2 linked regions of the Homo sapiens genome follow. The protein of the gene in region 2 interacts with the protein of the main gene of each other region in a biochemical or structural test. Each region holds a gene or a part of one and is shown on either strand. Other genes may lie near its edges.

Evidence for each region. The genes of interacting proteins can lie anywhere in the genome.
Region 1: of the proteins of TRPM7 (region 2) and MYH9, one has a biochemical effect on the other in vitro, tested with the Homo sapiens proteins (one study listed by IntAct).

What each region holds. Positions count from the first base shown.
Region 1 is NC_000022.11:36,377,968-36,384,967, reverse strand, and holds part of MYH9 (myosin-9), read left to right. Parts: intron 1-7,000. UniProt on the Homo sapiens protein: Cellular myosin that appears to play a role in cytokinesis, cell shape, and specialized functions such as secretion and capping. Required for cortical actin clearance prior to oocyte exocytosis. Promotes cell motility in conjunction with S100A4.
Region 2 is NC_000015.10:50,676,416-50,684,400, reverse strand, and holds part of TRPM7 (transient receptor potential cation channel subfamily M member 7), read left to right. Parts: intron 1-7,985. UniProt on the Homo sapiens protein: Bifunctional protein that combines an ion channel with an intrinsic kinase domain, enabling it to modulate cellular functions either by conducting ions through the pore or by phosphorylating downstream proteins via its kinase domain.

The DNA of each region.
Region 1 (7,000 bases), on a different chromosome or scaffold from region 2:
GTGTGCTGAGACCCTGGGCTGGAGTCCTCTGCTGACAAAAGAATGGAGCCCTGGCAGTGCTGCTGCTGTGGCTTACTGAATCCCACTCTTAGAGCTGGGAAGAGTGGGGTAGTGGAAAGAACGTGAGCTTTGGAAACAGGCCGAGTTCAAATCCTGACCATGCTACTTAATAGCTTTGTGACCTTAGGCAAGTCACATAGCCTCACAGCTTGGATGTGCTTATGTATAATATGGGAATCAAGATCCTACCCTGTGGGGTTAGATGCATGAACTGAAAGAAATAAGGTATGTACATGGCCTAATATGTAGTGGCTGTATATATATATATATATATATATATATATATATATATATATTTTTTTTTTTTTTTTTTTTTTTTTTTTTTGAGACAGAGTCTTGCTCTGTCGCCCAGGCTAGAGTGCAATGGCGTGACCTCAGCTTGCTGCAACCTCTTCCTCCTGGGTTCAAGCAATTCTCCTGCCTCAGCCTCCCGAGTAGCTGGGATTACAGGTGCCCACCACCACACCCCACTAGTTTTTATATCTGTAGTTGAGATGAGGTTTCACCATGTTGGCCAGGCTGATCTCGAACTCCTGACCTCAGGTGATCTGCCCATCTCGGCCTCCCACAGTGCTGAGATTACAGGTGTGAGCCACCGTGCCCGGCTCATATATGGTTTTTGTTTGTTTGTTTGTTTTTTGAGATGAGTCTCACTCTCGCCCAGGCTAGAGTGCAGTGGCACAATCTCAGCTCACTGCAACCTCTGCCCCCAAGGTTTAAGCGATTCTTCTGCCTCAGTCTCCCGAGTAGCTGGGATTACAGGTGCCTGCCACCATACTTGGCTAATTTTTGTATTTTTAGTAGAGATGGGATTTTGCCATGTTGACCACGCTGGTCTGGAACTTCTGACCTCAAGCGATCCACCGGCCTCGACCTCCCAGAGTGCTAGGATTACAGGCGTGAGCCACCACACCCAGCACCCCCTCGCCCACTTTTTTTTTTTTTTTCGAGACAGGGTCTCACTCTGTCACCCAGGCTGGAGTGCAGTGGCACTATCTTGTCTCACTGCAACCTCCGCCTCCTGGGTTCAAGCGGTTCTCATGCCTCAACCTCCCGAATAGCTGGGATTACAGGTGCCCGCCACCATGCGTGGCTAATTTTTTTGTATTTTTAGTAGAGACAGGGTTTCACTATGTTGGCCAGGCTGGTCTCGAGCTCCTGACCTCAGGTGATCTACCCGCCTCAGCCTCCCAAAGTGTTAGGATTACAGGCGTGAGCCACCGCACCTGGCACCCCCCCCCCTTTTTTTTTAATATAAATGATCAGTCTTAACTCCCTAGGTTATCAGGTTGAGGGGGTGGGGATGAGGCTGGGGGACAGATTGTTTTCCTGGCTTCTAGCTCGGTGTTCTTTCTGCCTCTGTGCACAACAAGGTATGCGTGTATTGTGGTTGTGGACTGTGGTTGTGGACTGCCTATTCACAAGTGGCTATGAGGCCCATCTGCTGATGCTTTTGGATGCACTTGGTGATGAACTTCTGCTGAGTAACCTCTTCACAGGGCCCCGGCTGGGACAGAAGGTGTGCAGACTGTGGTTTCAGTTCAAACACATGGTTTCCTGTGGTCTGGGAGATAGCCAAAGGGTGATACAGGAAGAGCACTGGACTTGGGTGACTGGAGACCTTACTTCCAACTCTGGCTCTGGGTGAGGGGAGGTTTGATTTCCTTTTTGTTTTTTGATTTCGTTTTGAAGCAGGGTCTTGCTCTGTTGCCCAGGCTATAGTGCAGTAGCATGATCATAGCTCACTGCAGCCTCAAATTCCTGGGCTCAAGCAATTCTCTGCCTCAGCCTCCTGAGTAGCCAGGATTACAAGTGCACACTGCTACACCTGGCTAATTTTTGTGTTTTTTGTAGGGATGGGATCTTGCTGTATTGCCTAGGCTAGTCTCAAACCCCTGGGCTCAAGCAACCCTCCTGCCTCAGCCTCTCAGAGTGCTGGGGTTACAGGTGTGAAATACTGCACCTGGCCAGGTTTGATTTCCGAGGAGGTGCCGTATCTCCCTACAAAGATATCATACCAGTTTATGTGCCCACAAGTTATGTATGGGAGTGCCTGAAAAACTGAAAAATTAAGTAATTTTATTTATTTATTTATTTCTTTATTTGAGATGGGGTCTCACTCTGTTGCCCAGGCTGGAGTACAGTGGCATGATCTTGGCTCACTGCAGCCTCTGCCTCCTGGGTTCAAGCAATATTCCTACCTCAGCCTACCGAGTAGCCAGGATTACAGGGGTGCACCACCACACCCGGCTAGTTTTTGCATTTTTAGTAGAGATGGGGTTTCACCACGTTGGCCAGGCTGGTCTCGAACTTCCGACCTCAGGCGATCCACCCGCCTTGGCCTCCCAAAGTGCTGGGATTATAGGCATGAGCCACCACACCCAGCAAAATCAAGTAATTTTAATTTCCTAGGCACTCTTTTTTTTGTTTTTTGAGACTGAGTCTCGCTCTGTTGCCCAGGCTGGAGTGCAGTGGTGTGATCTCGGCTCACTGCAACCTCCGCCTCCTGGGTTCAAGCGATTCTCCTGCCTCAGCTTCCCAAGTAGCTGGGATTACAGGCGCCTGCCACCACGCCCAGCTAATTTTTGCATTTTTAATAGAAATGGGGTTTCACCATGTTGGCCAGGCTGGTCTCGAACTGCTGACCTCAGGTGATCCGCCCGCCTTGGCCTCCCAGAGTGCTGGGATTACAGGCGTGAGCCACCGCACCTGGCCAGCACTCTGGTACCTTATTGATGGGAGTGTATATTGTACAACCCTCTTTTTAGAAGGTCGTTTGGGGCTGGGCATGGTGGCTCACATCTGTAATCCCAGCACTTTGGGAGGCCAATGGGGGAGGATTGCTTGAGCCCAGGAGTTCGAGATCAGCCTGGGCAACACAGGGAGAGTCTGTCTCTGGGTTACATTAAACAACAACAACAACAACAAAAGAAAGTTGTTTGGCAGTATCTGTCAAAGCATACTCCTTCCGACTATATTCTAGGAATTCATCTCACAGATAAACTCAGATGTGCTGAAGGAAATGTCTGAGAATCTTCATTGCGGCATTGACATAGAAGATGACAGGAAACAAGTTGTGCTATTAAAAAGGTCAACTAAATCATGGTACAGCTGTACAGTGGAAGTCCTTGCATCCCTTTGAAAAATGAGGTCAATCCATATGTACTGATAGGGTGTGCTCTCCAAGCTATGTTGTAAGTGAAAAACACCAGACGCAAAGTAGTGTAAATGGTGCTTCGTTTTGTGTAAAACATGGTATGTAAACTCTGCTCTGTGCATGCAGTATTTCTGGAAAGATACTGAGACCCTGGTAATGGTGGTTGCCTAGGGTCTAGGCAACAGGAGCAGGGAGTGAGCAGTACATTTCACTCAATACTTTTTTTTTTTTTTTTGAGATGGAGTCTCGCTCTGTTGCCCAGGCTGGAGTGGCATGATCGATCTCGGCTCACTGCAACCTCCACCTCCTGGGTTCATGTGATTCTCCTGCCTCAGCCTCCTGAGTAGCTGGGATTACAGGTGTGCGCCACTATGCCCAGCTAATTTTTTTGTATTTTTAGTAGAGACGGGGTTTCACCATGTTGCCCAGGTTGGTCCCCATCTCCTGACTTCAAGTGATCCACCTGCTTCTTCTTCCCAAAGTGCTGGGATTACAGGCATGAGCCAGTGTGCCCGGCCATATTGTCCCTAAAGAATAAAAAATTCAGCTATTTCTTATTTTTCTTAACTATAAAAATAAGGGGTCCAGCTGGCTAATCTGTAGGTCTCAACTTTAAAGTGCATTGCTTTAGGTTCCATATTGCATATTGAATGCCTACCTTTTACAAGGTAAGAGGGAAGGGTCTTTGTGCTTGAAACCTTTGGGTCCTGTTTTCTTCCCATGATGTCACATCACTAGAGTAACCCCTTAAACAGAAGTCCTTTCTGATCTACTTCCTCATATTCTGGGAAATGGTAGATGATTGATTTTTCTTTGCTGTATGAGAAGAGAAAGCCTGCATGTGTGTCTGGAAAGCGTTTTGGGATACCCTCTTGCAAGGTTTCCATAATTCGCTTGGCTCCAAATCATAAGCTGTCCTGTCCTGGGGAGCCCACCCCAACCTGAAGCCCAACCCAGGCCCTCACATACCTGGCTTTCTTTCTTTTCTTTTCTTTTCTTTTCTTTTTTTGGAGACAGAGTCTCACTCTGTTGCCCAGGCTGGAGTGCAGTGGCGTGATCTTAGCTCACTGCAACCTCCACCTCCCAGGTTCAAGCGATTCTCCTGCCTCAGCCTCCCGAGTAGCTGGGATTATAGGCACCTGTCACCACGCCTGGCTAATTTTTGTATTTTTAGTAGAGGCAGGGTTTCACCATGTTGGCCAGGCTGGTCTCGAACTCCTGACCTCAGGTGATCCACCTGGCTTGGCCTCCCGAAGTGGTGGGATTACAGGCGTGAGCCACCGCACCCGGCCACCTGGCCTTCTTTTTTAACTTGGGGTCATTGCATCCACTATTATGCCCCTTCCCACTCTGTCCCCAGTTTCCCCTAAGACATCTGGCCTGTGGTTTTTATGTATAACAACACTGGAAAAGCCCAAATTCTTGAGAAGATGTGATCAGAGGGGTGTTTTGAATGGGAGGGCCCTACCCCCCTTCTCAAGGATGGCTGTCTTTCGCCTTGGATGGTGTGGGCCCTGGGAGGAGCTGCCGGCGCTGCTGTTGTGCCCGATTGACTCCTTTCCTGAGTGAAGTCTGGAAGACCCCATCAGGGTCCTGAGGTCCTGCAAGGCAGCCTCCGGGCCTCCTGGGGGAATGGTGTGAGTCACACATGAGCACACACTATGAGACTGGCTCTAAAATGGGACCGCCACTGCATGGGCGGGCGGCCTGTATCTGTACCCAGCTCCCTGTCCCTTGTGCTTAGATGGCACCAAATATTTGGGAGGCAGGAGGGGAGCTGCCCACTCTGATGCATGTCTCTTTAAAAAGTAACCTAGGCTTCTGTTGGAATTACTCAGGTTCCCATTCCCACGATTAGCTTCTCGAGCCTGAGATGATTCAGCACCCGGGCAGGTGTCCCCAGAGAAGGCCCTTAGCTAGCCCGCCAAGCGCTGGAGCAGCTGGGAGTCCCTCAGTGGCTGTCTGCATCTCTAGCCCAGGACCCTCCTGCTGTGGCTGGAAGGAGCCTTTGCAGGGCCTTCCGGAAGGGTGTGGCTTCCTGCCGTGCAGGTTGGGCTAAGGCCTGTAGTGGGGTTACAGGTAGCTGATCTTCCCCACCCTCGAGTCACTTCCTTGGTACTTCTCAGAGGCCCTTACCATCCTTATGGTATGTCCCAGAGGAGAAAAGGGGCTTCTCAGGGAGGTCCCTCTCTTGCCTTCTTAGGCCAAGATGATGTCTTTCTGTACAACTTTTTATTTTTCTGAGACGGAGTCTCGCTCTGTCACCCAGGCTGGAGTGCAGTGGCGCGATCTCAGCTCACTGCACGCTCCACCTCCCGGGTTCACGCCATTCTCCTGCCTCAGCCTCCCAAGTAGCTGGGACTACAGGCACCCGCCACCACGCCCGGCTAATTTTTTTTGTATTTTCAGTAGAGACGGGGTTTCACCGTGTTAGCCAGGATGGTCTCCATCTCCTGACCTCATGATCCACCCGCCTCGGCCTCCCGAAGTGCTGGGATTACAGGCGTGAGCCACCACGCCTGGCCTCTCTGTACAATTTTTAATGTGTTGGGGGAGCTCGAAGCTAATCTCTGAGTAGGTTGCCACTCACCAAAAGGACGTGGGCCTTAGAAAGAAGAGCCTTTCTTCTTGCATTTTAACTCTAATTTGAAATCATCCCCTGCTTAAAAGAAAAATCAGCAACAACAATGAAAACCCTCCCTACTGGATTTAGAATTATAGAATGCCTGGCTGGAAGAGATGTTGGGAATAATTAAAATAACATTTCTTTTTTTTTTTCCTAATTAGAGAAAAAGCGATTTGCTTAAGCTCATTCTGTGAGTCGGTAGAAAACCTTGGCCCCTGGTTTCGCTCATACCCAGTGCCTTTCCAAATCAGGAGGCTTCATTTAAGCGTGTTTTCTAAATGGTGACTCTCTTTTTTTTTGATGTTTATGCCCTGTTTAGCCAAGCAACACATACTGAGCTCCTTTAATCTTTCCTTAAGAGTCTATTCTTCTACTCCCTTCGTCTTTTTTGTTGTTTTTTGTTGGGGGGCACTAGGGTTAAGGAATGGGGTGGGAAGTGTTTTGGGTTTCTCTGAACTTCTTCCAGCTGGACGTGACCACTTGGGCTGAAAGTTCCCACAGCTCGAAAAATCAATATTTCACATGGGGTGGTGCCAGGCAGCAGGGTGGGCCATTCAGAAAGCCACACTGCTGCCCACTGTCCTCAGCCAGCCCTGATTTCTAGTAACTTTAGGTCACTTAATGTCTCCGGTGATAATTTGTTATATTTTCAACACAAAATGCACGGGAGAAGGAACAAAATAAAGTTTTGGGATCAGGCAGAGCTAGGAGCAGACCCCCCGCCTTTTCTCCTGCTGCTCGCCTTAGTTTTCCCATCTGCACCGTGGAGAAGCCTCTTTCTTAGCATTATAAATGGATGTGAAGTGGTCTGTTCCTCCTCTTCCTCCCCTTCATCTCTCTTCTTTTTTTATGAGACAGCGTCTTGCTCTGTTGCCCAGGCTGGAATGTGGTGGCGCGATAGCAACTCACTACAGCCTCGGCCTCCGTCTCAAGCATTCTTCCCACCTCAGCCTCCTAAGTAGCTGGGATCACAGGTGTGCACCACCAGGCCTGGCTAATTTTTTTTTTTTTTTGTAGAGACAGGGTTTTGCCATGTTGCCCAGGCTTGTCTCAAACTCCTGAGCTCAAGCAATCTACCTGCCTTGGCCTCCCAAAGTGCTAGGATTACAGGTGTGAGCCACCTCGTCCAGCTTCTCCTTTTCTTCATAGTAACAATA
Region 2 (7,985 bases):
CAAAGTGTTGGGATTACAGGCATGCCCCACTTTGCCCAGCTTCTACTCTTTATTTCCTGTGAACTAGTTAGTAGTTAATCTAAAGACTTGATCAGTAATCGGGCGTGGTAATCCTAGCTACTCAGGAGGCTAAGGCAGGAGAATCGCTTGAACCTGGGAGGTGGAGGTTGCAGTAAGCGGAGATCCTGCCACTGCACTACAGCCTGGGTGACAGAGTGAGACTCTGTCTCAGAAAAAAAAAAAACGACTTAATCAGGTGGGGCGCAGTAATCCCCATACTTTGGGAGGCGGCGACAGGCTGATCCCGGATCACTTGAGGTCAGGAGTTCAAAACTAGCCTGGCCAACATGGTGAAACCCCGTCTCTACTAAAAATTAGCAGGGCGTCGTGATGGGCACCTGTAATCCCAGCTACTCGTGAGGCTGAGGCAGGAGACTCCGTTGAACTTGGAGGCGGAGGTTGCAGTGAGCCAAGATTGCGCCATTCACTCCAGCCTGGGTGAGAGTCTTTCTCAAAAAAAAAAGACTTGATCAGATTCTAGTTTCATACTTTGACAATACTCATAGATAGTACTATGTACTTTCTGTTGCATTACATTAAGAGGCACATACTGTCTTTGTTTTTTGAGAAGGAGTCTTGCACTTGTTTTTTTTGTTGTTGTTGTTTTATTTTGTTTTTTTTGGAACAGAGTCTTGCTCTTGTCACCCAGGCTGGAGTGCCTGGCTTGCTGCAGCCTCTGCCTCCTGGTTCAAGCGATTCTGCTGCCCCAGCCTCCCGAAGCTGGGATTACAGGCGTCCACCACCACACCCGGCTAATTTTTGTATTTTTAGTAGAGACAGGGTTTGCCATGTTGGCCAGGCTGGTCTCAAACTCCTGACCCCAGGTGATCCACCCGCCTCGGCCTCCCAAAGTGTTGGGATTACAGGCGTGAGCCACTGACCCTGGCTTCTTTTTTTTTTTTTAAATGTTAAGATTGACCAGTGGATTCGTGTTGTCTGATGCCTGATCTCTCAGTTGTGAAGTTCCCCATATGTTATTCATGTAGTAGTTTTTGTAGTAGTCATTTAGTTTTTGTCATTGATCTATTATTTCATTCTGGGTTTCCTTTTCTCCTTTCTTTTTGGGAAATCTTTCAACATATAAGTAAATTGCAGTTTTTTTTTTTTAAGTGACTGCCTGTTAAATGTCAAATGCTTTAAGTTTGGTACCTGGGTCAGGGTGCAGTGGCTCATGCTTGTAATCCTAGCACTTTGAGAGACTGAGGCGGGTGGATCCCTTGAGCCCAGGAGTACAAGACTAGCCTGGGAAAGATGGCGAAACCCAGTCTCTACCAAAAAAAATAAAAAAACATTAGCTGGGCATGGTGATGCGCACCTGTGGTCCCAGCTACTTGGGAGGCTGAGGTGGGAGGATGGCTTGAGGTTGCAGTGAGCTGAGATCATGCCACTGCACTCCAGCCTGGGTAACAGAACCAGACCCTGTCTCAAAAAAAAAAAAAAAGTTTGGTACCGGGAAGCAAAATTCAGTGGTTGAGGTTAGTTTAGGACATAAGCATTACTTGACTATGGGGATTTTAACTGAGTCATTTATGTGAATCAGTAAAAAGAACTTAAGATGGGTGTCACTTTTAGATGATGCTTTGCAATTATTAGATTAGTTGAATGTGAATACAGTGTTTGACTTGGAGAATTGGACCTCTTGTACTTTATACAAATATGATTAGTTCTAATTTAAATTGTTAGTTCTTTTAGAGATTTTGTTGACTTTTTGGTACAGTTAATTTTGGATTTAGGAAATTGCTCTGGAATTTTTTTTTTTTTTTTGAGATGGAGTTTCCCTCTTGTCGCCCAGGCTGGAGTGCAATGGTGCGATCTTGGCTCACTGCAACCTCCGCCTCCTGGATTCAAGTGATTCTCCTGCCTCAGCCTCTAGTAGCTGGGATTACAGGCACACACCACAACGCCCATCTAATTTTTATATTTTTAGTAGAGATGGGGTTTCACCATGTTGGCCAGGCTGGTCTCGATCTCTTGACCTCATGCTCTGGATTTTTTTAACCTGTTTTTCTGGGACTGTGTATTTAGTTTTCTGTCCACGTAGGGGTTTTAGAACCCTGTTAAAGGAATTTTGGTGTGTGGAGGTAAGCAGTTTTTTGAAGTTGATAAGTCAAGACTTGACTCTTGACATATTTTTGCCAGGTCACAGTCCTTTTTTTTTTTTTTTTTTGAGACTGAGTTTTGCTCTTTTGCCCAGGCTTGCGGTGGCGCGATGTCGGCTCACTGCAAACTGTGCCTTCCAGTTTAAAGTGATTCTCCTGCCTCAGCCTCTCGAGTAGCTGGGATTACAGGTGCCTGCCACCATGCCTGACTAATTTTTGTACTTTTAGTAGAGACAGGGTTTCCCCATGTTGGCCAGGCTGGTCTTGAACTCCTGACCTCAAGTGATCCACCTCAGCCTCCCAAAGTGCTGGGATTACAGGCGTGAGCCACCGCACAGTCTTTTATGAGCATCACTGTTATCTTCTCAATCTGTAAAAGGCAAATGATAATCTTTTCCCTACTTGACCTAAGGAGCAATATTAGGATTAAAGTCTGTGAAACACTGTTTACCCCTCTTACTATCATATAAACATGTCAATAACATAACACCTTAACTATCCAGCTGCCAGACTTCTGGAAACCTTAACCTTTGGAAACAAAGCTCCTTGTGGAAAGTGAGCAAAAAGCTTTTGAGCTAAGTCATCAATAATATAGCAACCCTGAGACAGAGTTCACTGATTGAAAAATGTGTGCAAAGTGAAATTTAACAGGCTTAGTTTTCTGCTTTCTGCTGGCAGTTTGGTAGTATGCTGGAGATAACAGGAGGAAAGTTACCTGAGAAGCAGACTATTACTGTTAGGAGGACACTGGAGAAACATAATTAGACTAGAAAGATAGGGCTATACATTAGCCTTTACTATATGAAATGATAGTCTTCCTAGTCTAATTTATCATACCCAGTACCCGGAAGATACTCTGGACTAAGAGAAGTGTGTAATAGGCTTTAGGCACATTTTTGCATTAGCTAATGTGTCGGCATTTAGCTGTGGCCATTGCTCTGAATGCTTTGTGTGTGTGTGTGTGTGTGTGTGTGTGTATTTATTTATTTTTGAGACGAAGTCTTGCTCGGTCATCCAGGCTGAAGTGCAGTGGCGTGATCTTGGCTCACTGCAACCTCTGCCTCCCGGGTTCAAGTGATTCTCCTGCCTCAGCCTCCTGAGTAGCTGGGATTACAGGCATGTGCTACCATGCCCGGCTAATTTTTGTATTTTTGGTAGAGACGGAGTTTCACCATGTTGGTCAGGCTGGTCTCGAACTCCTGACCTCGTGATCTGCCCGCCTTGGCCTCCCAAAGTGCTGGGATTACAGGCATGAGCCACCTCGCCCGACACTTTACATATATTAATCCCGCAGGAAAATTCTGTGATGTCAATACTGTTTTCTCCATTATTTATATATAAAGAGCAGAGAATCAAAAATCACTTGCCAACGGTCACAAGGCTAATAAGTGGTAGAGTAGGTGTTGACCTGCCAAACTACAGAAACTTGGAGAAGGCTTTTGATATTCAGGGACATGTATATTTGTAAGACCTCAGATGACAGGTGTTATGTCAAGTTAAAAAAGTTAAGGTTTTTTTTAAAAAAGTTATAACTTAAAAAGTTTGCTGTACTTGATTTTCTTCAAATGATAATGAAACCTAATAGAATTTCCTTTACTATCAAATTTCTGTGTATTAACCTTAGGACAGATAATTTACAACTCAGTTGTCTGGTTTTTGTTTTTTTTTTTTTGAGACAAGTGTCTCTCTCTGTCAATTAGGCTAGAGTTCAGTGGTGCGATCTTGGCTCATTGCAGACTCCGCCTCCCGGGTTCAAGCCATTCTCCTGCTGCAGCTTCCCAAGTAGCTGAGGTTACAGGTTGCGCCACCACATTGGGCTACTTTTTGTGTTTTTATTTTTATTTTTTAAAAATTTGTGTTTTTACTGGAGACAGAGTTTTGGCATGTTGCTCAGGCTGGCCTTGAACTCCTGGTCTCAAGTGATCTACCTGCCTTGGCCTCCTAAAGTACTGGGATTACACGCATTAGTCTGTATGCATTTTATTTTATTTTTATTTTTATATTTTTTGAGATGGAGTCTTGCTCTGTCACCCAGGCTGGAGTGCAGTGGCACAATCTCAGCTCCCTGCAGCCTCTGCCTCCCGGGTTCAAGTGATTCTCCTCTGTCAGCCTCCCGAGTAGCTAGGATTACAGGCACCCGCCACCATGCCCAGCTAATATTTGTATTTTTAGCAGAGACAGGGTTTCACCATGTTGACCAGGCTGGTCTCGAACTCCTGACCTCAAGTGATCCACCCACCTTGGCCCCCCAAAGTGCTGGGATTACAAGCGTGAGCCACCGCCCGGTCATGCATTTTATTTTGACAAGTGCAGAGACACATACTCTGGGGCAATCCTTAGTAGATTAGAAAAGTCATTAAATAGATTTCTGGATGGGTGTAACTCTTTGTTAAAAGCAGCAGGAAAAGACTGGGCATGGTGGCTCTTGCCTGTAATCCCAGTGCTTTGGGAGGCTGAGGCGGGAGGATTGCTTGAAGCTAGGAGTTTGAGACCAGCCTGGCCAACGTAGATAACCCCACCTCTACTAAAAATATAAAAATCAGCTGGACGTGATGGTGTGCGCCTGTAATCCCAGCTCCTTGTGAGACTGGGGCATGAGAATTGGTTGAATCCAGGAGATGGAGGTTGCAGTGACTCCAGATTGCGCCACTGCACCCCAGCCTGGGTGACAAAACAAGACTCTGTCTCAAAAAAAAAAAAAAATATATATATATATATATATATATATATTATATATATACACATATATATAATATATATATATATAAATGAAATAAAACCTGTAGAAACCTATCATGAATGTATCAACAAAAGTATCAACACCCTGCTCACTGATAGATAATGGGTTGATATGGCTTACTCGCAGTGTGAACGTCCAAGCGTCCAAGTTTTCTGTTTTGTTTTTTTTGGATAGTGTTTTGCTCTGTTGCCCATGTCAGAGTGCAGTGACATCATCATGGCTTACTGTATTCCCAACCTCCTAGGCTCAAGTGATCCTGCCACTTCAGCCTCCCAAGTACCTAAAATGACAGGCCCATACCACCAACCTGGCTAATTAAAAAATTTTTTTGACTGGGTGCGGTGGTTAATGCCTGTAATCCCAGCACTTTGGAAGGCTGAGGCGGGTGGATCACCAGGTCAAGAGATCGAGACCATCCTGGCCAACATGGTGAAACCCCATCTCTACTAAAAATACAAAAATTAGCCGGGCGTGGTGGCACGCACCTGTAGTCCCAGCTACTCGGGAGGCTGAGGCAGGTGAATCTCTTGAACCCAGGAGGTGGAGGTTGCAGTGAGCTGAGATCACGCCATTGCACTCCAGCCTGGGTGACAGAGCGAGACTTCGTCTCAAAAAAATTTTTTTTTTTGTTTTTGCAAAGATGGGTTTCTCACTCTGTTGCCCAGGTTGATCTTGAACTCCTGGGCTTAAGTGGTCCTCTTGCCTTGGCCTCCCAAAGTGTTGGGGTTACAGGCATAAGCCACTGCACCTGGCCTTAAGTTTTTAAATATATAGAACTTTTCTACCAATTGTTACAGAATTATAGATGCTTTTCAATAATATCTTTAAAACTCTCATAGGGTTCGTATCTAAAATGTCAGTAATATCTAATTATTAATTAGTTGAGTAGTTGGCAGCCAGTTTAGAGTAAGAGTGGAACTCTGTGACATAATAAAATTATGTATATGTGTGTGTGTGTGTATATATATATATATATATATATATTTTTTTTTTTTAAAGAATGGAACTAGAGAGTAGGGTCTGTAAGAGTGTCAGAAAGTCAAATGTATTGAACTCTGATAGGGGAAGTCAGAGAGTGCCAGCTTATTTCAACATTTTGCTTTAGGCTAGTCTTATTTGTCATTGTCTGTGTCACCCTTGGCAGGCATGTTGGTCACCCTTGGCAGGCATGTTGACCCATGTACAAATTTATCACATAACTCTGAATTTCTAGGTGTTGGTTTTTGTTTTTGTTTTTGTTTTTGTTTTTGTTTTTTTTTTTTGAGAGAGAGTCTCACTCTGTTGCCCAGGCTGGAGTGCAATGGTGCATCTTGGCTCACTGCAAGCTCTGCCTCTTGGGTTCACGCCATCCTCCTGCCTCAGCCTCCCGAGTAGCTGGGACTACAGGCGCCCACCACCACGCCCGGCTGATTTTTTGTATTTTTTTAGTAGAGACGTGGTTTCACCATATCGGTCAGACTGGTCTCAATCTCCTGACCTCGTGATCCGCCCGCCTCGGCCTCCCAAAGTGCTGGGATTATAGGCATGAGCCACTGCGCCCAGCCAATTTCTAGGTCTTTAGTGTCATTTAACTTTCTTTTCTTGAGCACATGAACTTTATTAGTAGGCAATTTCTTTTAATTTGATTACCGTTCTTTTGAATATGGGTCACATTTTCCTGTCCATTACCATATCTAGTCATTTTGGAGTGTATATTGGACATTGGGATTGTTACTTAGTAGAGGCTCTGGGTTACCTTTTGTTTTTTTTTTTTTTTTTTTTTTGATACGGGGTCTTGTTCTGTTGCCCAGGCTGGAGTGCAGTGGCGTGATCTCAGCTCACTGCAAGCTCTGTCCCCCAGATTCAAGCAATTCTTCTGCCTCAGCCTCCTGAGTAGCCGGGATTACAGGCGCGTGACACCACACCCGGCTAATTTTTGTGTTTTTAGTAGGGATGGGGTTTCACCATGTTGGTCAGGCTGGTCTCAAACTTCTGACCTTGCGATCCGCCTGCCTTGGCCTCCCAAAGTGCTGGGATTATAGGTGTGAGCCACCACGCCCAGCCTCTGGGTTCTCTTTTAATCCTGTGCTCTGTGTGTGTGTGTGTTGTTGTTGTTGTTATGTACTGAATGTGATCTCCCTCGCTCCCCGAGAATTCATATCTTGAAGCCCTAACCTCCAGTGTGATGGTATTTGGAGATGAGAACTTTGGGAGATGGAGGTAATCAGGGGTAGATGAGGTCATGAGGGTGGGGCCCTGGGTCTGATAGGATTTATGTCCTTAGAAGAAGAGATACCAGAGAGCTTATTCACTCCCTCTTCACTGTGTGAAGACACAGTGAGGAGGCAGCTGTCTGAGAGCCTTCATCAGACACTGGCCCTCCTGGAATCTTGATCCTGAACTTTCAGTCTCCAGAACTGTGAGAAAATTTGTTTCAGTTGTTATCCCACCAAGTCTGTGTGGTATTGGTTGTGGCATCCCAAGCCGACTAAGACAGTTGTTGATTAACTTCATTGTACTCAAACTCCAAACTGTCTCTCCTACAATGGGCAGCAGGAATATCTGCTCAGTTATTTTATTTAGCTGGGCTGCCTGGAGGCTGCCCCATGTGTACGATCTTCATGGGTCAGTGAGAGATTTGTGTAGAATTAATATTAAGTATTTAGGATTCCTTTTCTCAACTCTTGCGGAAACTTTCCCATCACTTTCCAGCTGCTGTTTTCACCTTGAACTGGGTATTCTGGTTCTATAAGTCAGTAAGACTGTGGGATTTCTATTGATATTTTGCTGTTCACTAGGCATAGGATGGGGACTGTTTTCAGGCAAAAAGCCTTAAAAATTGGGAAACTCACTCAATACCATTCCTTTATTCTAAGTATAGACTCCGTCTGGTTTCTGCTTGCTTTTGGTTGCTCTTCAGTGTCCTCAAGTCTTTTTTATCTTTTTATTAAAAAAAAAATTTAAACGATAGAGATGAGGTCTCGCTGTGTTGACCAGGCTGGTCTCAAACTCCTGGCCTCAAGCAGTCCTCCCATCTTGGCCTCCCAAAGTGCTAGGATTACAGGTGTGAGCCACTGTGTCTAGCCTCTTTTTTATCTTTTGTCCAG